Linked DNA regions of Homo sapiens: region 1 is linked to region 2. The links come from fine-mapping of genetic effects on gene expression. Tissue or cell type: testis. Region 2 holds a variant in brackets; the other region holds the start of a gene. All regions are shown on one strand. Distances are between the middles of the regions.

Region 1 (13,718 bases), 20 kb after region 2:
ATGGATCATAGGCCTATAAATAAAATGTAAAACTGTAAAACTTCTAGAAGAAAACTTAGAAGAAAATCTGCATGGCCTTTGGTTTGGTGATAAGTTTTCAGATATAAAACCAAAAGCACATTCCATGGAAAATATTGGTAAGTTGGACTTCATCAAAATTTAAAGCTTTTGCCCTGTGATTTACACTAAGAGAATGAAAAAATAAGCCAAATCTTGGTTTCTAAATACCATTCTCCATTCTAAGGAATTCAGGGTGCCTTAAAGAAATGGCTAACTCTAGGGCTAGAGCAAGAAAAAATACAAGATGAACCTGAGCATCCTATAGTGCCAGAAAGTACAGGCGTGCTCAAAATACAAAAGGATAATTCCACAACAATGTGAATGTATTTAATACCGCTTAACTGTACATGTAGAAATGATTAAGCTATTAAATATTATGTATGTATATTTTACCACAATTTTTTTTTTTTTAAAAAAGAATGGTGGTCTGTCAAAGGGACACAAAAGCCAACCTGAAAAGTGCTTCCCAGGTCAAAGCCAGTACCATTTAGCTACAAAATATTGCATTACCACCAGCAATGAGAGAATCTGTCTCAAACAACAACAACAAAAAACCAACAAAAGACAAAATACATATACATGAACCCGTATTGATATACAAATAAGTGATTTAATTAATTAATAAATGGGAGAGATGAGGCAAAAATCTTTACAGAATTCCAAATTATTTTTGTCATTGTTGTGTTTTTGTTTGTTTTGTTGTTGTTGTTGTTGTTTTGAGACAGAGTCTCGCTGTGCTGCCCAGGCTGGGGTGCAGTGGCGTGATCTCAGCTCACTGCAACCTCCAACTCCCAGGTTCAAGTGATTCTTCTGCCTCAGCCTCCCAAGTAGCTGGGACTACAGGTGTGTGCCACCATGCCCAGCTAATTTTTTTTTTGTATTTTTTAGTAGAGATGGGGTTTCACTATGTTGGCCAGGCTGGATTTGAACTCCAGACCTTGTGATCTGCCCGCCTCAGCCTCCCAAAGTTGGGTTTTTTTTTTTTTTTTTTTTTTTTGGAGATTGGGTCTTACTCTGTTGCAGTTTGGAATGCAATGGCACTGGTCACGGCTCACTGCAGCCTCAGTCTTCCAGGCTCAAGTGATCCTCCCACCTCAGCCTCCTGAGTAGCTGGGACTACAGGTGTGCGCCACCATGCCGGGCTAATTTTTAAATTTTTTATAGAGACAGGGTCTTCCTATGTTGCCCAGGCTGGTTTCAAACTCCTGGCCTCAAGTGATCCTCTCTCCTCAGTCTCCCAAAGTGCTGGGATTACAGGTGTGAGTCACCACACCCCACCCCAAATTATTTGCATAGATAACCCCCTTCAGGAGGTGCAGCTTAATTCCCCTCCCCCAACACACACACACACCCTCTAGGATGCCTAGACACGGTGACTTGCTTCCATAGGAAAAAGGGGAACATAGTAACTTTACTATTAAAATGGACAGCATCTTAATGATCAAGGTTAAAATCACCATTAATAAGTCATGTTAATAGCACATACTCCTGATATGACCTGATAAGCATGGGCATTTCACCTCTGTGGTATTCCTCCCCAAAATCCATAACCTCAGTCTAATCATGACAACAGGCATACCCAACAGGAGGTATATTCTTTAAAATACCTGAGCAGGGCCAGGCGTGATGGCTCACGTTTGTAGTCTCCGTACTTTGGGAGGCCAAGGCAGGTGGATCACTTGAGGTCAGGAGTTTGAGCACAGCCTGACCAACATGGTGAAACCCTGTCTCTACTAAAAATAAAAAAATTAGCTGGGCATGGTGGCGCATGCCTGTAGTCCCACCTACTCAGAGGCTGAGGAAGGAGAATCACTTGAACTCGGGAGGTGGAGGTTGTAGTGAGCTGAGAGATTGAGCCACTGCACTCCAGCCTGGGTGACAGAGAGACACTCCCTCTCAAAAATAAACAAACAAAGAAACAAAACCTGAACAGTGCTCTTTGAAACTCTCAAGGCCATGAAAAACAGGAAAGATTGAGACACAGTCCCAAACCAGAGAAGACAAAGGAGACATGACAACTAACTGTGATGTAGGCCTGGACTGAATCCTGCAACAGAAAAAGAACATTAGTAGAAACACCTGTGAAATTTGAATAAAGTTTAGAGTTTAACTAATAATGTACAAATGTTGGTTTCTTGGTTTTAACAAATATACTGTGGTTGATGTAAGATGTTAACAATAGGAGAAACTGGGTAAAGGGGACCTATGGGAACTCTCTGTACTGGCTGCAACTTTTCCTTAAATCTAAAATTATTCCAGGCTGGGGGTGGTGGCTCATGCCTGTAATCCCAGCACTTAGGGAGGCCAAAGCAGGAGGATCACTTGAGGCCAGGAGTTCGAGACCAGCCTGGGCAAACTAGCAAGATCCCTGTCTCTACCCAAATTTTTATTTAATTGAAAATTATTCCAAAATCAAAATTTTGTCTAGAAAATAGATAAAGACAAAGAAAAATTTGACAATAAAGGTGATGGAAACAACAAAGATATGTAAGAAACTGAGCACAATTTGGGTCTTTGTGGTCAAGTCTGATTGCTAAGAGGATTCCTCCCAGCTCTAGAGATTCTTATTCATTATCTGATTACCCACAAAAAAGCAGAAGTTTATTAAACATTGCTCTAATGGGGAAGTTCTCAAACGTGTGTATCAGAATCACCTGGAAACTAATGACAAATACTGGGACCAGGGTCATCAAAGTAGACTAGCACTGGGACTTCTGTATTTTTACCAGGTTCCCTGGTGAACCTGATACATACCCCAGCTTAAGAACCACTGTTCTAGTGCTTTTCTGTTGACATTGTCACAGGATCCTTAGGGTGTTGCTTTGCCAGCTGGAAACCTCTGTGATCAGCAGCACCTCTGCTTGAGTTTTGCTTGCGCCTGCTGGGCTTGTCCTGCCCACTTGGCCTGGCAGGCTACACTTGCTTTGCTGCCGGCCTGGATCCCACACTTGACAAGGTTGAGGCAGGTGTGGAGCAGTGAGGGGTATGTGAACGAGTGAGCACAGGTTCTTGCCTCTTTGCACAGCCAGGCACACTGGCTGCTGTGGCAGGGTGGGCAGCTCCAGGCACTGGCACAGGCGCTGGCTCCATGTGACGCTGCAGCTGGACCCGATATACCACAAGCGGCTTCCACTGTGGGCACCAGCATCTAGACAAGGGGAGTCCAGTGGCACCTAAAAGCTCAGAGATGCCAGGAACTACAGAGTGCCAAAGAAGGTGTTACAGTGTGTCACAGCCCTTGCTCAGGGAGCCCCAAGGTCTGGGCATCCAGAAGGGCCACAGCTCTTCTCTCCTTCTCATTGCCCGCAGCATGGTGAGTGGGGGGGTGTGTTTTGGGGGGCATGTTTCAGCCCATTTGTGTTACAGCTCTTTCAGTCCTGCTGCCACACTCTGGGCCACAGTTCCTGGGCTAGCCCAGCCCCGCTGCTGCTTCCCATCGCATGGGGCAGCTGTCTGGTGCCAGCAGAGGGTGGGAGAGCTATAGTGTTGCAGCCCTTTAGCTCCCACCATAGCTCAGGGAACCAGCCAGGGAAGTGTTACAGCTCCTTTTGCTCCTGCCATTTGGTGGGTCCCAAGTTCTTGTCCCATATCCAGGAAGAATGAGGTTGCATGGGCAACTGGAGGGTGATCAAGGCAGAGAAGAGCTTTATTGGGCAACCAAACAGCTCTCAGCAGACAGGAGACCCAAACTGGGTAGCTCCTATTCATAGGCAGGTATTCCCAATGAGTATAGAGGAGACCCAAAGTGGGTAGCTCCTATTCATAGGCAGGTATTCCCAACGAGTATAGAGGAGACCCAAAGTGGGTAGCTCCTATCCACAAGCAGGTAATCCTGATGAGTCTCTGAGTCTGGCTGAGTCTGGGGTTTTTATGAGCTCAGAAGGGAGGAAGTACATGCTGATTGGTTCATGGAAAAGGCACCATCCAACTGGCCAAAAGGCATCAAGGAAGTTCTCACTCTGGGTCATGAACTCCACCTGGAACTGGGAGCCAGGCCCCTAGGTTTTAGGCCTGGCCTGAAGATGGGGTTTCACCAGGGACCTGCTTCTTCCCACCTAGGAACCTGTCTGCCTCCTGCCACCATCAACAGGCCATTTGCAGTGCCCAGGCTGTCTGCAGGCCCACGTCAAGCTGCCCTCAGCACCCCAGCCTTCCTCCCATGCTCATTAGTGCCCAAAGTCTGAAGGGGCCGAGGTAGCAGAGGGCTGGTGCCTCAGTACTGCCCCAAGGATACACACACCTGGCTGGGTTGCACCAGTACCTGGGCTCGGCCACAACTGTGTTCCACACCAGAGTGGGTGCTAGGGATAGGGAGAGGCCAGGGAGTGGGAGCAGGCACTTCTGAGCTTGTGGGGGAAGGAGGCTTCCTGAGCCCCTGAGAGCATAGGGATGCCTGGGTCTGGAGCCATAGCTGGGCAGCTGCAGCTGCACCCAGGAGTTGGTGGGCTCCCACCCCACCAACTCGGTAGGGCGTGGGGGCTCCCACTGGGATTCAACTGTTCCTGGCCCCCACGGGCCAACGAGTGCACAGCCCTGGCCACACCTCCCCCGCTACAGCTGGTGTCCTTGCAATGGCCACTCCATACGGATCGCCACTGCCATCAACATGACTACAAACACGACCATTCATACGTTCAACAGCCATTTATTAACTATTATGTGCCAATTCTTTGTCAGTACTAAGAGCACAGTAGTAAACACTCAGGCAAAGTCCATGCCCTAATGGAGCTTACATTCTAATATGCAAATAAATATACACTGATGGAGTGTCTCCTTGTATTTCCCAGTTCCAAGTCCCCAGAGAGAAAACCTGATTGGTGTAGCTGGTCACTACCATCCACTTGTGGGGGGAGAACCTTTTCTAAAGGCCACCTCATTCAGTGTGGGTATTGGCTGCCTGTATATCAGGGTTTCCCTCTAGTCCAGTCAGCTGTGACTGAGAGTGCATGACACATAACATGGTCTCTCATGTGGTCTCATGTGGTTAGCTCCCTCAGCAAAACAGGCTAGGTTAGGAGATTCTCATCTGCCCTATCCAATGTGGTTCTTATTCAAATATGGTAGGAACCAAACTTTCTCAGGGTAGTCTGAAGGCAAAAAGATAAGGCTGCACTAACCAATACCAAGCTGAGTATTAATAATCTAAAAATCCAAAATGCTCCAATTGGAAACTTTTTGAGTACTGATATAACACTCAAAGGAAATGCTCATTGGAGCACTTTGGATTTTGGATTTTTGGATTAGAGATTCTCAACCAGTAATGTTCCAAAATCCAAAATCCAAAACACTTCTGGTCTCAAGCATTTCAGATAAGGGATATTCAATGTGTATGATAAAAATGATCCCTCCATCATGAACAACTTATTTACAAGAACTCAGAATTGGCCAGGTGTGGTGGCTCACACTTTGGGAAGCTGAGGTGGGCAGATTGCTTGAGGCCAGGAGTTTGAGACCAGCCTGGCCAACACCGCAAAACCCCATCTCTACTAAATATATGAAAATTATCTGGGCATGGTGGCGCATGCCTGTAATCCCAGCTTCTTGGGAGGCTGAGACACAAGAATTGCTTGAACCTGGGAGGTGGAGGTTGCAGCAAGTTGAAATTATACCACTGCACTCCAGCCTGGGCAACAGAGAGAGACTCTATTAGAAGGAAAGACGGGAGGGGAGGGGAGGGGAGGTGAAGGGAAGGGAGGGGAAGGAAGAACTCAGAATTAATGTTAATGGAACTCAGAACACACACAAAATTGAGTACCAGATACTTCTTCCAGAAGAATAGATTACTTCCGGTTTTTTAGCCTGTAGACATTTGCTTCTGTTGGACTTCACTTTTCTGCTGCCTCTGATGTTTCAAAATACCAACCTGCCTGCAGCAGATTCTTACTCCAATTGAAGCTGACTTGACAATAATCTACCACGTGTTCCCTCCATCATGTTGTATTATTTATATTAGCTTTGGCAATATCCTTGAGATTTTACTATTTGCCTTCTGTTGGAGCGTATTCTCCAACTAAAAGAGGAAACAACTGGCACCAGGAAAAATGGAGCAATCATTCTCACATTTTTTCAGTCCCAAACCAGGTGGGCCCTGTACCTCACCCTCACACCCTCCACCAACTGCTGCTAAAGAAATAACATGGGTTTTTACCATCACCCTGGGAATTAGGAAAAAAAAGAAAAAAAACCCACAGATTTTGATGAGACACAAATAGTAGCCACAGAGGTCACTTACTAACTGATTCTGAAAAAAAGGCTTTGAAGCTATTCATTACACACATTCAATTCAAATCAATAAACACTACTACCATGTTCCCAATACTCAACCAGGAACTGGGGATCTCAAGATGAAAAAACATGATCGGCTGGGTGTGGTGGCTCACACCTATAATCCCAGCACTTTGGGAGACTGAGGTGGGAGAATCATGTGAGCCCAGGAGTTCGAAACAAGCCTGGCAGCATAATGAGACGTCGTCTCTGCAAAAAATCAAAAAAATTAGCTGGGTGTGGTAGTGCGTGCCTGTAGTCTTAGCTACTCGGGAGGCTGAGGTAGGGATGATTTTGAGCCCAGGAGGTGGAGGCTGCAGTGAGCTGTGATCACACCCCTGCACTGCAGCCTGGGAGACAGAGTGAGACCCATTTCACAAGAAAGAAAGGAAAAAAAAGAAGGAAGGAAGGGAGGGAGCGAGGGAATGAGGGAAAGAGAAAGAGAGAAAGAAAAGAAAGAAAGAAAGAAAGAAAGAGAGAGAGAGAGAGAGAAAGAAAGAGAGAAAGAAAGAAAGAAGAAAAGAGAGAGAAAGGAAGGAAGGAAGGAAGGAAGGAAAAAAAAAATATGATCCTTGCTCTGAATGAATGGACCACGAATGGTGGAAGACAGGCCTGTGATGATGACGATGATGTCATAGAAATGAAGGAACTGTTTCATGGCAAGGAGAGAGTCACACTGACCTTAAGGATAAATAAGTAACATTTGAGATGGGACTTAAAGGATTAGGATTTTTTCAAAGTTAGGATTTTTTAAGTGGAAAATGTAAGGAAGGGCATTCCAGAAGTAGAGAATAGCATGAATAAAATCAAGAAGGTAAGAAAGTAAATGGCTTGTGTGGAGAATAACAAGCAGCCACTCATGAGGCTGAAACATACACTACAGCTCTAAGGAAGGGCTGGACTTGCCCATGGACCACCAACGATCCACAGCCTGGGTTCTATAGGCCGCGGCTGCCATCAGACATATGGGAGACAACTGGTCCAAAAATTTTGACCACTGAACATGGCAGCAGCTTCCATCATAAAGAGGGTTATAATTGCCAAGCAGAATGAGAACATTATAATTAGATCTAGTTCTTCCATTTATTCTCTTGCATTAAATGTATTAATTTGTTGAATTAGCTGCTAGGCATTCTGGTAAATATCAAGAACATAGAGCCAACTCCACTGCAGACCCTGTCCTTGAGGAGCCTAATAACTGGAGATTTCATTTATGGATTTATGGATTTATTAGGCCTCCTAAAAATCTGCTATTCACTTACCGATAGCAAAGAAAATTATTTTTAAATTTTAAATAATATTTTCTTATTACAAAAGCACTTCATGAGCATCATAGAATATGGAACCAGCCAAAACAAAAAATAAAATATCTCTGTCACCACCCAGAGATCACCACTGTAACCCTTGGTTCATATTCTCCTCCCACATCTTCATATGCATACATACATATTAATCTGTATTTTGAGGACATGTTTTTCATTTTGTCTACAGACACATCCCGTCTTGTAACCAGCTTTTAAAAAAGACAATAATTTCCACGTTTCCATGTGAATAACTACTCTTCTAATACTCAGTACATATTCAAATTTCTCCAAATGAACCAAAAATGTCCTTTACGCTTATTTCTCCAAGTTGGCCCCCAACTCAAGCCCTTGCAATGTGTCTCTTGGTTATATTCTTCGGGTTCCTTTTAATCTGGCATAGGCCCTTTCATAGGACTCTGACTCGACAAAGAGAACTGGCCAGCTGTCCTGAAGGAAGGCCCACTTCCTGTATTTGCCTGGTTCCCTGTGGTGTCATTTTACTTGCTCCTCAATTCCCCTTACTTCCTGTAAACATCAAACTCAAGATGCCATAGAGGCAAGTTAACCACCTTGGGCTAGAATACTTCATGGGCGATAGCACGTACTTTACATTGCATCACATAGGAATCCACATAATACCTGGTTGACGCAACATCAGTCCAACTGACCACAAAGCAACTAGGGGTTTCAGAGGGAGTACACGTAAGGGGCAAAAGCAGCAACGGAATACGACAACGGAATAAGCATGAATACGACCTGGCTACCTGAAGGAGGTAGGACGGGGAACCGAGCAGCAGCAGGTGGTGGAATGCCAGGGAAATCCAACCGTGCTTCCCACGCTGGCATCGCTCTGATTATGACCAATCCTCTAATCTTATTCTCACAATTAGGGAGGAAGAAAAAAAAACAAACCCAAACCAAAAAAGAAGTTGGTAGGTGACTCTGTGAGACTACTGTTTTATAAAGGGAGCGTTTCCTTTTATAAAATTTAGCTGAGCAGATGCTAGGCAGCCCACAGGAGGCCACTATTCCCCTCAGCTGTACAGTTTGGGAAAATACCTACACACCCGGAGAACAGAGAGCTTGGTGTGTGTTGAGTTCGCTCCTGTTCATCAGCAGCCCTTTCCCCGCCTCTGGCCACCAGGGGGACCTGCAACCAAGTATGTGTTCTTTCAGGCGAGCGGGAACGCGTCTGCATAAATCTAGTCCAATCCAGGGCCCCGTAGCAAGGCGCCAAAGCTGGGGGAAGCGCATTTCTGTTCTCTCGCGAGCACGACGCGGTGCCTCCCAGTCCTCCTCCGGCCCTCCCTCTCCGCCCTCCCGGCCCGCGAGCGCTCGGGCCCCTTCCAGTGGCTCGCGGCAGGTGGCGCTGTCTGCGGCGTCGCAGCGGCCCGGGCTGCAGCAGAGACGATCTCCCGGCGGGCTGTGCGGCCCGGCTCTCCGGCGGCAGCGAGTGCCACGTCCCAAGTGCTACGCGGAGGATTAGAGCAGGCGGTGCGCTGGGGGCGGGAGCAGCGCGGAGCCCGGCTCGGCCACACCGATCGCCCGCCGCCATGGGCTCCTCGCAAAGCGTCGAGATCCCGGGCGGGGGCACCGAGGGCTACCACGTTCTGCGGGTAAGGGCTCCGACGGCGGCCGGGGAGCTGCGGGCTGGAGGCGGGGCCGGCCGCGGGGAGGCGGAGGCCCCCATGGGCTCCTTCACGGGGCAGCCAGGCCCGATCCCGCGAAGGAGCGGCGGTCGCGGGCGCTGCCTTGGTCGAGGCTGGTTCCGGAGGCCGCTCGCATCCCACCTCCGCGGAGCGCCCTGGGCACGGGGTCCGCGGCTGTAGGAGGACGGGCTGGAGCTGGAGGCGGCTGCCGGCGACTCGGCCAGGGGGCGGCCCTGGGAAGGGGGGACAACCTTGCTCTTTTTCCGCACGGCCTTCTCTCTCCTCCACCCCCCCTCATTTTTAGCTTCCAAAGTTAGGAAGGGCGCGGAGGCAACGTCTCCAAAGTGGTGACTGTGAAGGCAGCCTTTGCGCTTTCCTAGGAGAGGGATCCGGACCCGCAGTCCGGAGGCGGGGCCTGCGGCGGCAGGTGTTAAATCACCTCGGCGCCGGCCGAGTGGCCTGAAAGACCAGCAGGGCAGGAGACGGAAAACCAAATGGCCTGGAAGTAGGTTCGACGGACTTAAACAGACTTGATTTTGACCAGACTTTTCCTTTCCCGTGCCACTCCTGACCCTCCCAAACCTTCTCAAGATTTCCTGGAGTGGGAACTTCCGTTCTGTTCCGATTGCTGAGGGTGTGGTTTAGATTATAAGGTTTAGATCCACAGTGGTAAAGAGGTAGTGCAGAGAAATTTTTTTTAAAAATCGGAGTATATAAAGGAAAACAACCCTAGCTTAACTTCCAGGACGCAGAGAAACATAGTATCTCAAAAGGCGTCAGCTAAGCCCCTACCTATGAACGGCCTGGGCCTGGGTGGTACAAAGCATGTGGTCTTTTCCTCATGGAACCGGGCGACTTTAGAAGTAGCATTGATGGTTGTTTGCTGTGACACCTGTGTGAGTGTTAACATGAACAGTCAACAGAGTGGCCGCAGCGTGTAGCGCCATTTAGGGGTGTAATAGAGTGTCACTCAATATTAGCTCCTCACAGGCAAGAACGTTTTCACTGAAAGTAAGAGAGTGCACTTCCTGGTGCTACCTTCATTTCCTGCCCTGGGTCCCATGTTTTAGGTGAGACACATTCTTAAATTGCCCAGCTGTCTATGTGATAGGGCTGAGACAGATCATCTTTCTGATCTTCCGGATTATCGTGTCTATTGCCTTTCCATTACACTAAAAATCCCTCCTCTGCCATACTCTTAGTAGGAAAGGGTGATTTTTTTTTTCCCCGAAAGGAAAAGGGAGCCTATAAATAAACCGTATTATCTTCCTATCCCCTTCTGCTAACCAAACACCCAAGAGCCACACTGAGAGAGGAAATGGAAGGAGAATTGTCAGTTCCCAAATGTGAGGTGAAAGCTGTGCTTTTCTTTCTATTATCTGGTCTGATTTTGAGTTCTCTACCCTGGGATGTTACCCAGTATTACCAGCTGTTTCTCACAGTGACCGATTGTGGTCATGAATCCTTGGGGATTCATGATATTTTTATAATACATGCACTCAGGGAAACTCAGTAAAACACATTAGTGTTAATAAGCAAAAAAAAAAAAAAAAAGTCGCGTGTTTGAAAGAAAGCCATACACATCAAAAGGATTCCAACTTAGTGACTGCATTCCGACATAAAATGAGTTTGTATTTTCTTTATGTAAGTGCAGTCAAGTGAAACAGCATTCATACATATTCAGTAGTGCAGATGTGTTATTAATCTATACATCTGATTTTTAGAAAAACTAGGGACAACCTTAGTTACCAATCTGCATCTGGAGCATTAATGTTGCACACGATGAAATAATTCTTATTTAGTTAGACTTTTACTAAAGAGAGCTTTAAAATAGTAATGATCTAGTTTAGGAGAATTTTGTGTCTGCCTTCCTAAGACCCTCTGCCCCTGATTCTGTAATTGGTTTTCTTATCTTTGTTTTTAGAGGGAAAAGTGCTGTGTTAAATCTTAACATGTAAAAATGTCTTCCTTTCATTTGTTATTGCCTAAATGGACAGCGATATATTTCATTGTTAGATTACCAAGCTTGTAAACTGGAGTAACTGTGGCAGGAAAATTTTGAATAAAATCACCCATATTCAACAAGTTCTAGAACGATTTAATTAGAAGTTAGTTTTCTTGAATAACCAATTCCCTGGCCAATCTTGTTGTAGTAAAAACTTAATATGATTGACTGGGTTTTGAAATACCAATTATAATAACATTTATATCCACTGCTGTCTTTTGATTTCATGAGTCCCTATAATTCAGATAGATTGAGCTTTCCATTTTTTTCATTATTTTTCAATATCCATCTAAAAATATTTAGGGGACAGCCTTTAAATGGATTCAGAAGTTCTGCTATGAGCAGTGTAGTTCCTTTTTATGTGTTCTGTATGTATGAGTGCATATTTTCAGATTGTGATCATATTGTGTACCCAACTTCTTATCCCCACTCCAGAGTAACCACTGTGGACAGTTTTTTACATAGCCTTTCAGATATATTTTATGCTTATAAAAAAGTCTCTTTGGCCGCGCACAGTGGCTCACACCTGTAATCCCCACTTTGGGAGGCCGAGGTGGGCGGATCACCTGAGGTCAGGAGTTCGAGACCAGCCTGACCAACATGGTGAAACCCCATCTCTATTAAAAATATAAAAAATTAGCCGGGCATGGTAGTGCACACCTGTAATCCCAGCTACTTGGGAGGCTGAGGCAGGAGAATCACTTGAACCTGGGAGGCGGAGGTTGCAGTGAGCTGAGATTGTGCCATTGCACTCTAGCCTAGGCAAAAAGAGTGAGACTTCTTTTCAAAAAAAAAAGAGTCTCTTCTTCTTCCACCCTTCTCTCTTTCTTTTTGTTACCTTGTAATCATGATCCATGCTGTTGCACACCTCAGTCTTCTCAGTTGTTGACCTATCTTGGCAGTCTTTCTGTAGTAGCAAGTGGCCATCTGCTTCATGCTTTCAGTTAGCTCACGGTAGTCTTTTGTACCATAGATTGGTTAAGGAGTACCTCCTGGTGTTGAACATTTGGTTATCTAGTCTTCTGTTATTATAAGTACATATTTACAACCTTAAATCCTACTTTTTGTTTTCCCATAACATACATCCTTTTCCCAGATTACTGTATTGAATTTTAATGGTAGCTGTCTGTAGAAATGTTGATCTTTATTTTAGTAAATAACTACATTGTTTTCTGATCATCAACATGTGTCCATTAGAGAACATTTGGATGTGGTAAAAAAGTACAGCAAAGAACCTGAATTACCTGTAATCCCACCATCTAAAGGCAAATACTGTTGAAGTATTTCTCTTAGTCTCCTTTTTTTCCTGGGCCTAACATCGCCCCTTAGCCATGTTTCACAAAGATTTTGAATAATATGACGTATTCAAGGACTATATGGCCAAAAGTTATCTTAAGAGGTTAACATTACAACCAAAATAGCCAACAGCTGAGAAATTGTTAAACAAATCAGGGCCTAAACACAGATAGAATGCTACACATTCACTCAAAATTGTGTTTCAGACACCCTGTGTGTGTGCAGGTACATTTGAGTGCTTAGGAAAATAAAGCTGAAAGGTAATAAACAAGGTTGTCTAAAAAATTATTAGTGGATGGTGACTTTTTTTTTAACTTTAATATATTTTCTAGGATTTCTGAAGTGATCATTAAATACTTGTATAGTCACCCAAAGTGTAGATATGCAAAATTACTTTTAAAAAAGAAGTGGACTCCTAGTGGAGGATTTAAAAATTTGTGTAGAAGTCTTTTTTTAAAAAATAGCATTTCAGATTTCCTTATATAGTGGGTCAGATTTGTGCTCACTATGAATGGCACTTTTATTTTGGTCCTCCAATCCTAATGTAAGGCAGGAAAAATGTTAGGGCTTCTCAGTTTTTGAAGTTATTGTAAGTTACCCCCTACATGTGAACTATGTTTAATATCAAATTTTTGCCTATATTTTCCATTAATTATCCAGTGAACCCAACAAGACCATTTTCAAAATTAAATTAAACCAAAATATCCAACAGGTGAGAAATTGTTAAACAAATCAGGGCCTAACCACAGATAGAATGCTATACATTCGCTCAAAATTGTGTTTCAAACACCCTGTGTATGTGCAGGTACATTTGAGTGCTCAGGAAAATAAAGCTGAAAGGTAATAAACAAGGTTCTCTAAAAAATTATTAGTGACATAGTTCACAAAATTAAATTTTTGGAGTGACCTCACAGATGCCTATTATAGGATCTGCTTTTAAATTAAAATATTCATATTCTGTTCCACACTTAAAAGAGATGGGGAATAGCTGAGGGCATACTTTCTGGAGCAAGTATTCAGTGTGGAGACTGTGTGGAGTGTGGAGACATGGAAAATGGCATTTTCATTCTTTCTCATGCTTGCTTCTGGGAGAGATTTTGAGGTGATGGATATTTTGAAGGAAGGGTCATTGACATGAAA
Region 2 (16,966 bases):
CTTGGGAGGCTGAGGCAGGAGAATTGCTTGAATCCGGGAGGCAGGAGAATTGCTTGAATCCGGGAGGCGGAGGTTACAGTGAGCTGAGATTATGCCATTGCACTCCACCTTGGCCAACAAGAGTGAAACTCTGTCTCAAAAAAAAAAAAGAATTAAAATAAATCTATTCCCATTAAGATGAACAAAAAAGTTTGACCATTTACCACATAAAATTGTCTTACAGTAGAATACAGACGTGCACAGGATCCCTTCGGGAAATACATTTTGATGATGTTCTACCTCCTCAGATTTATCTTTTCCTCCCAGCCACTGAGGCAGCTCCCAACCTGACATTTCCAGACTCGATTTGCATTTGCTTCAAGAAATTCCCACTGAAAAACCCTCCGCAAACTGAATTCACAAACACCTCCTGCCAACTTAGTGTTCTAGTCCTCCATACCCATAATTCCCAACTCTGATTTTTGTTACTAAAGGATAGAAAGTTTGGTGTCCTACTTAGGCTGTGATGACTGACTCTCTTGGGTTCCCAGACTTCATGGAAGACTTTGCCATGAATTCTTACCAACATTTTGACACAATAATTTTAGAACTTTGGAAGAAGGTCTGATTTTAGCCTAGAGAAATCATTTTTAAGGTTGGTACTTGTCCTTCAATTAAATTTGTAAACCCCATCCTATGTCTTCTTTGACTCAATAGTACATCACTTTCACCTATGGGCTGGTTTCTTGTATCTTGAAGATGAGGAAATCCTGTTCATCAGCAAGTGACACTTTCCCCACTTTGCACTTCCCACTCATCAAATGGCTGTTAAGTTGTCAGGGTCCTATCACAAAGAGCAGCTCATTAACTTTAATTATTTTTGAAATTCATTGGTTCAAAATGAAGCTAGTAGGTGCCAGAGGTTCATAGCTACAGATATTAATTAATAAGTGGAAGCTCTCATTAGCTGACACTTTTTTTTTTTTTTTGAGACACGGTCTCACTCTGTCACCTAGGCTGGAGTGCAGTGGTGTAATCTCAGCTCACTGCAGCCTTGACCTCCCAGGCTCAAGCAATCCACCTCAGTCTCTCTAGTAGTTGGAACTACAGCTGTGTGCCACCACACTCAGGTAATGTTTTTTTAGAGATGAAGTTTCACTGTTGCCCAGGCTGGTCTTGAACTCCCAAAGTGCTAGGATTACAGGTGTGAGCCACTTCGCCTGGCTGAGCTGATACTTTTTGCCATCTTTTTTTTCCTGCCATTTAATCAGTTCAGAGTGGGTCTAAGACTCTTCAAACTGGAAGCAGAGGAAAGGTAAGAGCTAAGTGTCCAAGACACAAAAAATCCAAGTGTCAGGCCCCAGACAAGAGCAGAGAATTTCCCTGGCTCCTGTTCCATCATTTTCCCAACTAAATCACTATTGCGTCTGGATTTAGAAAACCCACAGATCAGTTGGTTTCCAGATCACCTCCAGCTGATGTTTATGTTTAGTTAATTCCAGATAGAAGGTGACACTTGTGAGCTTTGCTAGAATCCCTCTGCATGGTAACCTGTTAAAATTATATTTAATGGCTCATGGCAGTCCTCGCTCCGTGAAGATGTGGCATTTTGCTGGTATTCTTTAAACATCAAACCAGTTATAATCTGTTGTAGATTTCATTACTAAGTCCATGCTTGTTCCAATTTATCTTTTTGAAAGTAACTTCCTGCTATGGAAAAGTAGTGTCCTCCAACACTGCTAGAGGCAGTATTAATTAGTATAATCTTTCTTTGTAAATTTCTCCTTCTGCTTTTTTTTGGTACAATCTTTCTTGAAAGCAAGATAGCTGTAAGTTTCAGATGCCATAAAATATACATATCATTTGATCAAAATTTCCACAAGTATTTTGTCCAAGGAAATTATAAGAAATGCAGACAAACACTTATCAACAAAGATATTCATTACAACATTAATTACAGTACTGAAACATTAGTAAAACCTAAACATCCTGAATAGGCCAATTTGTTAAATAAATTCAAGTACATCCATCGGAATATAATATAACCAGTGGAAGTGATATCATATAATATTTGACACAGGAACACATATACTCTATAAAATGAAATCAAAGAACCATATTGCAAAACTATATATAATATTATTCTAATTTTATGTCTTTTTTTAAAATTATTTTAGAGACAGGGGTCTTGCTATATTGCCCAGGCTGGCTTCAAAGTCATGGGCTCACGTAATCCTCCTGCCTCAGCCATCTTAATAGGCAAAACTATAGGCACATCACACTGTGCCCAGCCTAATTTTCAATATTTCTATATGTTTATAACAGTTATGAGTGGTAGAGTTACAGTAAATTTTATTTTCATTTATTTTTCTGTGTTTTTCCAATTTTCTGCATTGAACAACTACCCTTCTTTTAACTACCCCTTTTTAATCTTTTAAAGGAACATTACTTTTTTTTTTTTTTTTTTTTTTGAGACGGAGTCTTGCTCTGTCACCCAGCCTGGAGTGCAGTGGCGCGATCTCGGCTCACTGCAAGCTCTGCCTCCCGGGTTCACGCCATTCTCCTGCCTCAGCCTCCCGAGTAGCTGGGACTACAGGCGCCCACCACCATGCCCGGCTAATTTTTTGTATTTTTAGTAGAGACGGGGTTTCATTCTGTTAGCCAAGATGGTCTCGATCTCCTGACCTCGTGCTCCGCCCGCCTTGGCCTCCCAAAGTGCTGGGATTACAGGCGTGAGCCCCCGCGCCCTGCCCATTACATGATTTTTAAAAGAAAAGAAAGTGGGCTGGGCACAGTGACTCACGCCTGTAATCCCAGCAATTTGGGAGGCTGAGGAGGGCAGATCGCTTGGGCCGAGAAGTTCGAGACCACCTGGACAACATGGTGAAGAGACGGGGGTCTCTACAAAAACTACAAAAATTAGCTGGTAGCGCGCACCTGTAGTCCCAGCTACTCAGGAGGCTGAGGTGGGAGGATCACCTGAGCCTGGGGAGGTCAAGGCTGCAGTGAGCCATGATTGTGTCACTGCACTCCAGCCTGAGTGACAGAATGAGACCTTGTCCCAAAACAACAACAAAAAAAACAAGCAAGCAACCTTCTTGATGCATAGCACAATGGTATGCCTTAAGTCATACAGAGTATATAAAAATCCAGTCTCTAAATTCAAAGCTTACAAAAATTAAACGTTTATAAAAATCAAGCTCTTATTCTTTCTAAAAGTTCAGGAAGGAAGGAGACTGATTTGTTGAGGGCTAGAACCTTTTGTATATATCATGCCACTTATCATCACAATAGTGCTGTAAGGTGGCTACTATTAACCTTATCCTGTGGATGAAGACACAAAATAAGAGAACTTTAAGTAGTTTAACTCATCTCAGTTCAAACAACAATTAAATGAGAGGATCAGAATTCAGAGTCAAGTTTCATTCATTTGTTCATTCATTAATTTATGCACACTGAGTTTTGAGAATAAATAAATGCTTCTGGCAACTGAAAACAGAGTCTAATATAACGAACATAGACAATAATATGGAAAATATCCATAAATTCACCTTCCAGCTTAAGAAATAAATATTTCAGATACAGAAGATGCCCCTGTGTACTTATTCCCAATTTCATTCTCTCTCTTCCAACCAGCAGTAACCAGTATCTTGAACATGGGGTTTATTATTCCCGTGGAAGTTTTTATTCCTTTGCTACATGTTTGTATCCATAAACTATATTCAATCAACCACTGTCCAATCAGGAAAATGGAAACCACTCTACGCATTTCACAGAAAGGAGATGTAATACTGATAATTGGTTATAAAGGTATAGAAAGGAAGGGCTGAATATGCAAATGGAATAAGGGGTTATGTTCAATTTCACCCATTTATCCGCCAGATCAATTCTCTACCTTTTTTGTGCTCAGAAAAGTGGGTGATGCAGACTGCCTCACTGGACTCCCTTTATCTCTGGCTTCTGGTTGGCTTTGGCCAATGGGAAGCACTGGTAAAAGGTGAAGAGGAAGAGAAGGAGATCAGAATACCTGTTCACTTGGCTTCTTCCCTGTTGGGTTGCTACAGGTTGGCACTCCCACTGCCAAAATAGCCACTGATACTACTGAAATGCTCCTCTTCAGTCACCTACTATTGCTGCTGCTGCCATTGCTAGGAGCACTGCCAGGAACAGAAAGAAAAATGGCATCACCCTTTCTTCTGTTTTCTAATCTCCTGCTACTGCCTTGCATTGGCAAAACCTAATCAGAATCCAACTAGCAAGGAAGCCTGCAACAGGTATGTAGCTCACAGGTTTTTAGCCTCTTGCAATACAGGAGTGGAAGCACATAACCAATACAAGTGCCTAGTACTGTTTGCATTTTTTTTTTTTTGAGACAGGGACTCATTCTGCTGTCCAACCTGGAGTGCAGTGGTGCAATCATGGCTCAGTGCAGCCTAAACCTCCTGGACTCAAGCAATCCTCCCACTTCAGTCTTGTGAGAAGCTGGGACTACAGGCATATGTTACAATGCCTGGCTAATTTTTTTAAAATTGTTTTTTGTAGAGATGGGGTCTCACAATGTTGCCCAGGCTGGTCTCAAGATCCTGGCCTCAAGCAATCCTCCTGCCTCGGCCTCTCAAAGTGCTGGGATTACAGGTGTGAGCTCACTTGGCCTTGTTTGCTTTTTTTTTTTTTTTTTTTTTTTTTTTTTTTTTTTTTTGAGATGGAATCTTGGTTTGTTACCCAGGCTGGAGTGCAGTGGCATGATCTCGGCTCACTGCAACCTCTGCCTCCCAGGTTCAAGCGATTCTCCTGCCTCAGCCTCCCGAGTAGCTGGGATTACAGGCACAGCCACCACGTCCAGCTAATTTTTGTATTTCTGGCAGAGATGGGGTTTCACCATGTTGCCCAAGCTGGTCTGGAACTCCTGACCTCAAGTGATCCATCCACCTTGGCCTCCCAAAGTGCTGAGATTACAGGCATGAGCCAACTCACCCAGCCTTATTTGCATTTTTAAAACTTTACATAGATTGTATGCTGTACATATCCTTGCTTTTTAAACTTTATACCTTTGAGATCTATTCATGTTGATACATGTGGCTCTAGTTTTTCCATTTTAACTGCAATATTGTATTCAATAATGATATTTCTTCAAGGGAACTAGTGAAGAGAGAAACACTGAAGCACTGGCATTGGAACAAAAGAGGTATTAAAGTTACTAGATGGCAAACCACAAAAAGTAGGTAAAACTGGATTAAAGGAAAATGTTCCTAAAAGCTGTTCCTTTTTTACCTTAGGCATGTTGAGTAAAAATAAATAAATAGAGAAATAAATAAATAAGCCGTCTCTTCTTTCATTCAACATATAATAGATTCATTGAGCTTCTACCATGTCCTAAGCATTGTGCTTGACACAAAGGACAGAATATAGAATACAATCTGGTCCCTGCTCTCCAGTTTCGTCAAGGTCACAAGTACTATGATAGAAGCATGACTAGGATACTATGAAGGCACAGAACTTGATAGAAAAAAAGAGACTACAGAGTCTCTTTAAACTTAAAATTTTCTAAATACATAAAATGTTTTACAAATGGAATCCAGCAGTATAGTGAAAAATAATATGACCAAAAAGGGCTTATTTCAAGAATGCCAATGGTTCAATATTTTTTAAAACTTATAAATACCACAGGTTAAATGGGAAAAGTCACGAATTAAGGGGGAATATGTCAAAAAGTCACTTGAAAAATTTCAGCAGCTTTTCCTAATAAAAACTTGAAGTAAAACAGGGTTAACAGGAAACCATCTTAACATGAAAAAGACTAGTTAGCAAAAAACAAACAAACAAAACACAAAACCAAGAGCAAACATCATATTAAATAATGAATTAACGGCCAGGAGTAGTGGCTCATGCCTGTAATCCCAACACTTTGGAAGGCTAAGGTGGGAGGATTGCTTGAGCCCAGGAGTTTGAGACCAGCCTGGGCAACATTATGAGACCCTGTCTCTCAACATTATGAGACCCTGTCTCTACCGAAAAAAAAAAAAAATTAGCTGGGTGTGGTGGCGCATGCCTGTAGTCCCAACTACGTGAGAGGCTGAGATGAGAGGATCGCGTCAACTTGGGAGGTTGAGAATGCAGTGAACTGTAATTGAGCTGCTGCTGCACTCCAGCCTGAGCAACAGAACAAGACCCTGTCAAAAAAAAAAAAGAATTATTAAATATATTTCCATTAAGTTAAGAGTAAGATAATACTTGTAATTGTCTTGGTTTGGAAGTCAGATAATACAGCAAAATTTTTAAAAGGAACTAAAAATTAGGCATTTTAACAAGTATCAAATTATGTACTATAATATTGCTATCAAAATAGAAGAATGTTCATGATATATTATTAAATGAAAGGAAGGGAAGCACATCACAGAGTCCTGTATATAATACGACCCTGTTTTTGTGTGGGGGGTGGGGGCTTGGGCAAAAAGAAAACCGGTGTGTGCATAGGTGTGTATCCATTTATATTTAGCCAAAGAAGTGAAACTATATACACCACACTCTTAATATTGGTTATTTCTGAAGAGTAGAATTTGAGTATGGGAACTGTGAATTTTTTATCATTTTAATTATACATTATAATAATCATTTGTATTATTTGCCTTTCTATTATTTAAAAATGGTCTGTATCCTTTTATAATCTAAAAATCTAATAGACCGGATGCGGTAGCTCATGCCTGTAATCTCAGCACTTTGGGAGGCCAAGGCAACCAGATCACTTGAGGTCAGGAGTTCGAGACCAGCCTGACCAACATGGCAAAACGCTGTCTGTACTGAAAATAACAAAAATTAGCTGGGCATGGTGGTGCACGCCTGTAGCCCTAGCTACTCGGGAGACTGAGGCACGAGGATTGCTTGAGCCTTAGAGGTGGAGATTGTAGTGAGCTGAGATCGCACCACTGCACTCCAGTCTGGGTGATAGAGTGAGAGCTTGTCTCAAATAAATAAATAAATCGAATAAAGTAAAAAGAATTTTTAATCAGGTGGGAGGTAGTCAAAGACGGCTTCCTGGAGTTCACTGAATAAAGAACCAGTAAAAAGGGTGTTCTCTGCAGAAAACAGTAAGAGCAAAGGCATGAGACTAGATAAAGTTTTCAGGAAATCACAAAAACCTGAGGACAACTCAAGCAAATATGGTATATGTGTCCCTCATTACTAAATTCTGGTATCTCTGGGTTTATAAGGTGGTTCTAACCAAAGAGTAGCTAACAAATTCGGCACCCTGTTGGGACTTTAGAGGCTGTAGACACACCCCTTTCATCCTCATAGAGTTCAGAACCAACTCTGTCCTTTGAAGGATAAGACATAGGGTTTAGGCAGATGGTGACTTTTGTCATGCCATTATGATGGAGAAAGCAATTCAAGTATATGGTTTAAATGTGCAGCCACAGTGTGCTTCCTAATCCTTCTTCATCCCAGCATTTACTTTTCCACTCAGTCATAGGAGGACAGCTGGACACTGCAGAGCCAGCACGGGATGTTTACCACAGAGTGAACAACAAACCTGAAAGCCTGATCTCTGCTGGTCTCACCCAGCAGGGAGAGCCAAGAGGACTGGAACCGAGCATGCTCCGTTCCTTCCCCAGACACTTCAGTGAGATCCGCCACTCCTCTCCCCAGACAGAGAAGCTGAAGGGATACTCCCTAACTTATTTTTTGTGGCAAGCGTGTGGAAATCACCTCCCTGTAGAAGCTTGAGGAGGACAAATAAGTGTTTGTCCTAATACTCTCCAGCTTTACGTTCTCACATGACCAATTGGGCATAACATTTAAGTCCATAGTCAAACAACACACTTTTCACTTTTTTTTATAACGTCCTTTGATGTGCAAAACTTTTTCATTTTG[A/G]CAAAGTGCAATTTATCTATTTTTTTTTGTTGCCTGTGCTTTTGGTGTCATATCTAAGAATCTATTTCCAAATCCAAAGTCATGAAGTTTTCCCCATATGTTTTTTTCTAAGAGCTTTTATGTTTTTAACTCTTATACTTAGGTTATTAATCTATTTTGAGTTGTCCCAGTGGGGCAAGACTCCTTGCAGTGTTTTTAGATTTTAATTCATTTCCTCTGCTGATTTGAGAAGCATGAACCAATGAATGCCAGGCCCATACCACCTATCAAGCATCATGAATGAGGGCTAGGGAGAGATGACAGGAGAACTCCTTCAATTTGAGACCCTTGTGAACAGATGAGGCCAGGGGGAAATAGAGGCTGTCCTCAAAAGCAATGTGGTAATGCAAAGACCCTGACACATGGAATCAAATGCTATGGATGGAAAATTTAGAACAAATTAGTACCATGACAAGAGCTTCCTTCAATCTCTTATAAATCATTTCCCCCAAAGAAATGAAACGTGGTTACTAGCTTCAAGGAGGACCCTTTGAGATTGGTATTGTTTGAAACAAAAATATCTCATTTATCCATTACTAATGTTTTTTCTTTTCAATTCAGTCTATTACTCTTAACAATATACCTTAGGTAATTTATCTCTAGAACTCACTTATTATTTCCTGCCCCATACCTAGCCTTGACCATGAAAAGGATTTTTTTTCTGAGTAACAAAATAATTTCAGATTTCAAATAAGGTAATGATAATCTTATGGAAGGTCTGAGCTCAACTATTTGCCAGAAATCTTTTTTCTTGGTATGAAATACTACTGTCACCTGACCAGAAGGTTTGTTAAAATAGTACTTGAGAATTGTTAGTGTACAGAGAAACCTTTAGGTTGAAAAAAAAAAAAAAAAGAATTGTTAGGGCATTGCCTCCATAAATATTTGGCCTAAAATTTGGATAACTTGTTATTAAATTATTGGCTCTTTGTTAAACAGCTATACCATCACTAGGTGTCATTGTCTAAGAAAAATAGATCAGCATTCATTACCATTCAATTATCTTTGTCTTTAAAAACAAAACACTGGAGCTGGTTGTTCAATTTCCATGTAGTTGTGTGGTTTCGAGTGAGTTTCTTAATCTTGAGTTCTAATTTAATTGCGCTGTGGTCTGAGAGAGTGTTATGATTTCAGTTCTTTTGCATTTGCTGAGAAGTGTTTTACTTTCAATTATGTGATCAATTTTAGAGTAAGCGCCATGTGGTGCCAAAATGGGCAAAGGACATGAACAGACGCTTCTCAAAATAAGACATTTATGCAGCCAACAAACATATGGAAAAAAGCTCAACATCACTGATCATTAGAGAAATGCAAATCAAAACCACAATGAGATACCACATCACACCAGTCAGAATGGCGATTATTAAAAAGTCAAGAAACAACTGATGCTGGCGAGGCTGTGGAGACATAGGAACGCTTTTACACTGTGGGTGGGAATGTAAATGAGTTCAACCATTGTGGAAGTCAGTGTGGTAATTTCTCAAAGACCTAGAACCAGAAATACCATTTGACCCAGCAATCCCATTACTGGGTATATATCCAAAGGAATATAAATCATTCTGTTATAAAGATATGTGCACGTGTATGTTCACTGAAGCACTATTCACAATAGTAAAGAAACGGAATCAACCCAAATGCCCATCAATGATAGACTGGATAAAGAAAATGTGGTAAATATATACCATGGAAATACTATGCAGTCATAAAGAGGAACAAGATCATGTCCTTTGCAGGGACATGGATGGAGCTGGAAGCCATTATCCTCAGCAAATTAACGCAGGAACAGAAAACCAAACACTTCATGTTCTCACTCATAAGCGGGAGCTAAACAATGAGAACACATGGACACAGGGAGGGGAACAACACACACTGGGGCCTGTCTGGAGTGGGGGAAGAGCGGGGAGGGAGAGCATCAGGAAAGATAGCTAAATCATGCAAGGCTTAATACCTAGGTGATGGGTTGATAGGTACAGCCAACCACCATGGCATATGTTTACCTATGTAACAAACCTGCACATCCTGCACATGTACCCTGGAACTTATACTTTTTAAAAAGTAAAAAAAAAAAAACTCTGTAAAGAAAATGGTAATATAAACAGTAAAGAAGCTGTGTTTATATTTACTATCACATTTTTCAATAGAACAAGATTTTTGAAGCCAGGCACAGTGGCTGACACCTGTAATCCCAGCACTTTGGGAGGCTGAGGCAGGTGGATCACTTGAGGCCAGGAGTTCAAGACCAGCCTGGCCAACATGGCGAAACCCCATCTCTACAAAAAATACAAATATTGGCGGGGAATGGTAGTGGGTGGCTGTAGTCCCAGCTAATTGGAAGGCTGAGGAAGAAGGATCACCTGAGCCTGGGGTCCAGGCTACAGTGAGCTGTGATCTCACCACTGCACTCCAGCCTGGGTGACATAGTGGGACCCTGTCTCAAAAAAAAAAAAAATTTTTTTTTGGAAATATGACCCATGAATGACAACTGCATCCCTCACTGATCCCTATTGTTACCACTGTGTATCTAGTTTATTGTTCTGCAAATTGGGGTAGACCTAACTCTAGAAATTTTGCAACAGTTTAAACTCTCTCCATCAGTAGTGCACATAATTTTGCTAACGCTGAGTTTATCACTAAAATGGTAAGCCAAAGCCGGGCACGGTGGCTCATGCCTGTAATCCCAGCACTTTGGGAGGCCGAGGCGGGTGGATCCTGAGGTCAGGAGTTCAAGACTAGCCTGGCCAAGTTGGTGAAACCCCGTCTCTACTAAAAATATTTTAACAAAATTAGCCGGGAGTGGTGGCAAGCGCCTGTAATCCCAGCTACTCAGGAGGCTGAGGCAGAGAATTGCTTGAACCCGGGAGGCAGAGGTCGCAGCAAGCCGAAATCGTGCCACTGCACTCCAGCCTGGGCGACAGAGTGAGATTCCATCAAAAAAAAAAGGTAAGCCAAAAAAAGGTAGTATCTATTTTTAAAAATTTATTGTGATATATATCTATGAAATAAATGTATATCTTTTTCTATTTTATATATATGTAAATTTACCACTTAAATAGTTTTAAGCATACAATTTTGTGGGATTAATTACATTCACAATGTTGTGCAACCCTATCACTATTTCCAAAGCTTTTATCTCATTAAGCAATAACTCTCCATTCTCCCCTCTCCCAAACCTCTCATTTACTTTGTCTCTATAAATTTGTCTATTCTAGATTGTTGATATGAGTGAAATCACCCAATATTTTTTTTGCGTGTCTGGTTTATTTCACTTAGCATAATGTTTTCAAGGCTCATCCATATGTATCCATTCATCTGTTATGATCAATTGGGTTGTTTCCACCTTTTGGCTATTGTGAATAATGCTGCTATGAACATTCATGTACAAGCATCTGTTTGAGTCCCTGTTTTCAAATCCCTTGGATGTATACTCAGGAGTAAAGGTGCTAGGTTATATGGTAATTCTTTTTTTTGAGACAGAGTCTCACTCTGCTGCCCAGGCTGGAGTGCAGTGGTACTATCTCGGCTCACTGCAACCTCTGCCTCCCAGGTTCAAGCAATTCTCTTGCCTCAGCCTTTTGAGTAGCTGGGGAGTTGCCTTTGCTGAGGAGTGTGCGTGCACCACCATGCCTAGCTGATTTTTGTATTTTTAGTAGAGATGGGGTTTCGCCATGTTGGCCAGGCTGGTCTTGAACTCCTGACCTCAGGTGATACACCCGCTTTGGCCTCCCAAAGTGTTGGGATTATAGGCATGAGCCACTGTGCCCAGCCGCAGGGTTATATGGTAATTCTATGCTTAACTTTTTGAGGAACCACTACACTGTGTTCCACAGTGGCTACACCATTCTACATTCCCATCAGCAACTCATGAGAGTTCTAGTTTCTCCATATCTTCAAGAATATTTGCTATTTATCTTTCTTTCTTTTCTTTTTGGCTTTTGGTTTTGGGGTATTTTAAATAATACCCACCCTAACTGGGTGTGAAGTGGTATCTTACTGGGGTTTGATTAGCATTTCCCTAATGACTAATGATGCGGAACACCTTTTCACATGCATTTTGGCCATTTGTTTACCTTCTTTAGAGAACTGTCTGTTTAAATTCTTCGTCTATTTTTTATTGGGTTGTTTGTCTTTTTGTGATTGAGTTGCAGGAGTTCTCTATATATTCTGGATGTTAAACTTTTATCAGATATATTATTTTGTTTTCTCTCTTTTTCTTTTCTTTAAAGACAGAGTCTTGCTCTGTCACCCAGCCTGGAGGGCAGTGGTACAATCATAGCTCATGATAACCTTGGGCTCACTATAACTCTTGGGCTCAAGGGATCTTTCTGCCTCAGCCTCCTAAGTAGCTAGGACTACAGGTGCACACAACCATGATCGGCTAATTTTTAAATCTTTTGTAGGGGTCTTGCTATGTTGCCCAGGCTGGTCTTGAACTCCTGGCCTCAAGTGATCCTCCCATCTCAGCCACCCAAGGTGTTGGGATTACAGACATAAGCCACTGAGCACAGCCCATTTTCTCCTATTTTATAGGTTTTTTCACTTTTTTTATAACGTCCTTTGAGGTGCAAAAGTTTTTCATTTTGACAAAGTGCAATTTATTTTTTTTGTTGCCTGTGCTTTTGGTGTCATATCTAAGAATCTATTTCCAAATCCAAAGTCATGAAGGTTTCCCCATATGTTTTTTTCTAAGAGCTTTATGGTTTTAACTCTTATACTTAGGTTATTAATCTATTTTGAGTTAATTTTCATATATAGAGTGTGGTAAGAATCCAACTTCATTCTTTTGCATGTAGTTATCCAGTTGTCCCAGCACAATTTGTTGAAGACTATTCCTTTGCCATTGAATGAACTTGGCATCCTTATCAAAAATCAACTGGCTATAGATGTATGGGTTTTTTTAGGGAGTCTCAATTATATTCCATTGGTTTATATGTCTATCCTTATGTTAGTATCACATTGTTTGATTAATGTATTTTTGTAGTAAGTTTTGAAATCAAGAAGTATGAGTCCTCTGATTTTGTTCTCTCTCCGTCTCTGTTTTTGAGACAAGGTCTCACTCTGTCACCTATGCTGGAGTGCAATGATACAATCATGGCTCACTGAAGCTTTGACCCTCTCGAATAGCTGAGACTATAGGCATGTGCCACCATGCCTGGCTAATTTTTTAATTTTTTTTGTAGAGATGAGGTCTCATTATGTTGCTCAGGCTGGTCTTGAACTCCCAGGTTTACACAATCGTCTACCTCAGCCTCCCAAAGTACTGGGATTATAGGCATAAACCACTGCTCCCAGCATTTTTTCTCAAGAATTATTTGGCTATTGTGGGAGGTGGGATATGCAATGCATACGAATTGAATATCAGCTTTTCCATTTCTGCAATAAAAGGTTGTTGGAATTTTGATAGGTATTGCAGTGAATCTTTAGATTGCTTTGAGTAGTGTCGCTATCTTAACAATATTGTCTTCCAAGCTATGAACATGGTATTTTTTTCATTTAATTAGGTCTCCTTTAATTTCCTTCAGCAATATTTTATAGTTTTCACTATAGGTAGAACCTATTTTAATTGACTTTAAAAATTTTTTTCTGGAGATACTTGGGTTTTTTCATATTTCTATTGGGTATCTGATTTCATCTTCTATAATTACTTGTTTGAATTATTTGCCCTACTGCCTCTTGAGATGGCATCTTTTCCTTATTAATTTGCCTTCCCAGTCTTTCTCCTTCAAGTCATTTATTGTTTTGTCATCTGTGGGTTTCATATATGTATTGAGAATATTTCCTCCCATTCTGTGACTTTCCATTTTTAACAATTCTCTTTTGAAGAGCAAAAGCATTAAATTTTGGTAAGTCCAATTTACTGTGTTTTTGAAACCTATTTATAATTCTGTGCCAAATCCAAATTGCTAAGATTTCTTCTATTTTTTTTTCTTGCAGTTTTATAATGTTTGTTTTTACACTTGGGTAAGAAAATGGTCTAGGACCCATTTCAAGTTAATTTTTATATGGTGTGGGAAGAGTTGAGGTTTATATTTTGCATTTGCCTATCCAATTGTTCCAGCATGATTTGTAGGGAAAAAAAAATATTTCTTTTTTTTTTTTTAGATGGATTATCTCTGTCTCCCAGGCTAAAGTGCAATGGTGCAATCTCGGCTCACTGCAACCTCTGCCTCCTGGGTTCAAGCAATTCTTCTGCCTCAGCCTCCTGAAAAGCTGGGACTACAGGCACCCGCCACCATGCCCGGCTAATTTTTGTATTTTTAGTAGAGACGGGGTTTCACCATATTGGCCAGGCTGGTCTCGAACTCCTGACCTTGTGATCCGCCCACCTCGGCCTCCCAAAGTGCTGGGATTACAGGTGTGAGCCACCACACCCAGCCTGGAAAAAACATTTCTTTCCATCTAATCGCTTTGGTAACTTCATGCCATAGCTGAAAGAAAGGCACTAAGGTCACCCTTCCCCAAACAGGTTGATGTCCAGCCTGACAACATCTCTGTAGACATTATCTTAAATGCTCAAAGAGAAGTCCTAGGCACAGTTCCACTGACATGGTACCAGTGTGCCCTACTGTGTCCTGATCAGCCTCAAGGAGGTAGGGCCTGAGATGATCAGGTCAATTCCATTCTTTACCACCAGCTAAATAATTTTCCCTTCCTTAGTTCATTCTTTTTCTCCCTTTCTCATTCACTCTATCCCCAACATTGCCCTCATTTTCCCCTAGGTGCTATGTGGCTGCACTGTGAACATTTGTACCATGGATGGTCAAGCGATCCCTTGCATGCAATGATGGCATGAAAAGACTCCATAGGGAAGAGCTTCTTTTCCCCAGGATACCCACCCAATGGGAAAACCTCACTGTGGAGTTTAGTTTACTTCCAGACAGATTAACACTAAATAGACAACAAAGCTGCTATAAACAGTCATATATAGGTTTTTGTATGAACATTTTGGATGGACATTTATTTTCTGTAAATATCTAGGAGTGAGATCACTGGATCATATGTTAAGTGCTTGTTTAACTTCAAAAGAAACTGCCAAACTGTCCTCCAATGTGGCTGTACCATTTTGCATTTCCACCAGCAATGTTTGCGCGTTCTAGGTGCTCTGCATCCTTGCTAGTGCTTAGTATTGTCAGCTTTTTAATTTAATTTTATTTTTTGAGACATGGTCTCCTGTCACCCAAGCTGGAGTGCAGTGGCACCACCATACCCAGCTAATTTTTTTTTTTCGTATTTTTAGTACAGATGGAGCTTCACCATGTTGGCCAGGCTGGTCTCGAACTCCTGGCCTATACAGTGATCTGCTTGCCTCTGCCTCCCAAAGTGCTGGGATTACAGGCATGAGCCACCACACCTGGCCATGATTACTGATATTTTTTAAATTGGTTGATTTCATAAGAGTACTGTAAGTTTCTAGATCTCTTGAAAAATCAAATTTGACAACACTAGACTCCAATTCCTTAACGTCCTCAATCAGGTGGAGATTAGCAGTAGCTAGCCCTTTTAGGAGGGGCTTGAGAATTCCTATTTCCCACGGCCCCCACCACTCCCACATACTCAGCCCAACTTAATTCCCTCCGTGGACATACGAGTTTGTGACTCCTGGTTATGAAGCCATTCTCACAAGATTAGCAAGAATCCTGAACAGAAATGTACTTTTAATTGTTAGAGACTGCACTTTGACCCACTTTTTAAAAACCTAAATAACACTAGATACTAATCATTTGCATCCCCATTGGTCCTAGAGACAGGATTCCTGATGTTAGAATCAGGAGGCTTTTGTTTAAGAATTACTTAAGATGTACCTCAGATTCTGAATTCTAGTGACCAGCTGACACCAAGTTTAAAGATCCCCACAGAGGAACCAAATCAGGATGAGAATACAGGTTCTTCACCTCCCTGTCCCATGACTTCACCCTGCACTTTTTGATCAGTCAATGATCTCCACACTCCAGCCCACTCCAAAATCCTAGCCCCAAAATTCCTTGAGGAGATGAATTCGAGGTTTCCTCCAGTCTCTTTATTTGGCAGTCCTACCGCGTCCGCAATTGGTGGGTTCTTGGTCTCGCTGACTTCAAGAATAAAGCCACAGACCCACGTGGTGAGTGTTACAGTTTTTAAACATGTTGTGTCGGGAGTTTGTTCCTTCAGATGTTCAGATAGGTCCGGAGTTTATTCCTTCTGGTGGGTGCGCAGTCTCGCTGCCTTCAGGAGTGAAGCTGCAGACCTTCGCGGTGAGTGTTAGAGCTCTTAAAGGCAGCGCGTCTGGAGTTATTCATTTCTCCCAGTGGGTTGGTGGGTTGGTGGTCTCACTGGCTTCAGGAGCGAGGCTGCAAACCTTCGCGGTGAGTGTTACAGCTCATAAAGGCAGCACGGACCCAAAGAGTGAGCAACAGCAAGATTTATTGCAAAGAGCAAAAAAAAAAACCAACCCTCTACAGCATTCAATGGGACGCTAGCGGGTTGCCCAGCCGGCCTGGGCAGCCGGCTTTTATTCCCTTATCTGACCCCACCCACATCCTGCTGATTGGTCCATTTTACAGAGAGCTGATTGACCCATTTTACAGACAGCTGATTGGTCCGTTTTGACAGGGTGATGATTGGTGCGTTTACAAACCTTGAGCTAGACACAGAGTGCTGATTGGTGCCTTTACAATCCTTTAGCTAGACACAAAAGTTATCCAAGTCCCCACTAGATTAGCTAGACACAGAGCACTGATTGGTGTGTTTACAAACCTTGAGCTAGACACAGGTTGCTGACTGGTGCATTTACAAACCTTGAGCTAGACACAAAGTGCTGATTGGTGCATTTACAAACCCTTAGCTAGACATAAAAGTTCTCTGGAGTCCCCACCCAACTCAGGAGCCCTGCTGGCTTCACCTAGTGGATCCCGCGCCAAGCCAGCACCATGGGCGGTGCTGCCTGCCAGTCCTGCACTGGGAGCCGCACTCCTCAGCCCAAGCACACTCCTCAGCCCTTGGGTGGTCGATGGGACTGGGCGCTGCAGAGCAGGGGGCGGTGCCCATCGGGGAGGCTCAGGTGGTGCCAGAGGCCACCATGGGCAGTGGGGGATGGGTAATTGGG

Direction of the effects. Alleles are on the strand shown, and positions count from the first base shown. SD is a standard deviation of normalised expression in the study named.
As copies of G replace A in region 2, the expression in testis of the gene that starts at base 9,094 in region 1 goes up (moderate effect, 0.40 SD a copy in GTEx).

The links.
Region 1: it holds the start of GORASP2, and the variant in region 2 is fine-mapped to the expression of GORASP2 in testis (GTEx, PIP 0.95).

What each region holds. Positions count from the first base shown.
Region 1 is chr2:170,920,160-170,933,877 of GRCh38, forward strand. GORASP2 (golgi reassembly stacking protein 2) reads left to right here and starts at 9,094. Exons shown (of 10, transcript NM_015530.5): 1 at 9,094-9,244. The coding sequence starts at 9,182. RefSeq lists a silencer at 8,873-9,572.
Region 2 is chr2:170,898,524-170,915,489 of GRCh38, forward strand. No RefSeq gene overlaps it. Among named protein-coding and RNA genes, the nearest start is that of GORASP2, 22 kb to the right of the region's middle. The variant A/G (reference allele first, on the strand shown) is at 7,849.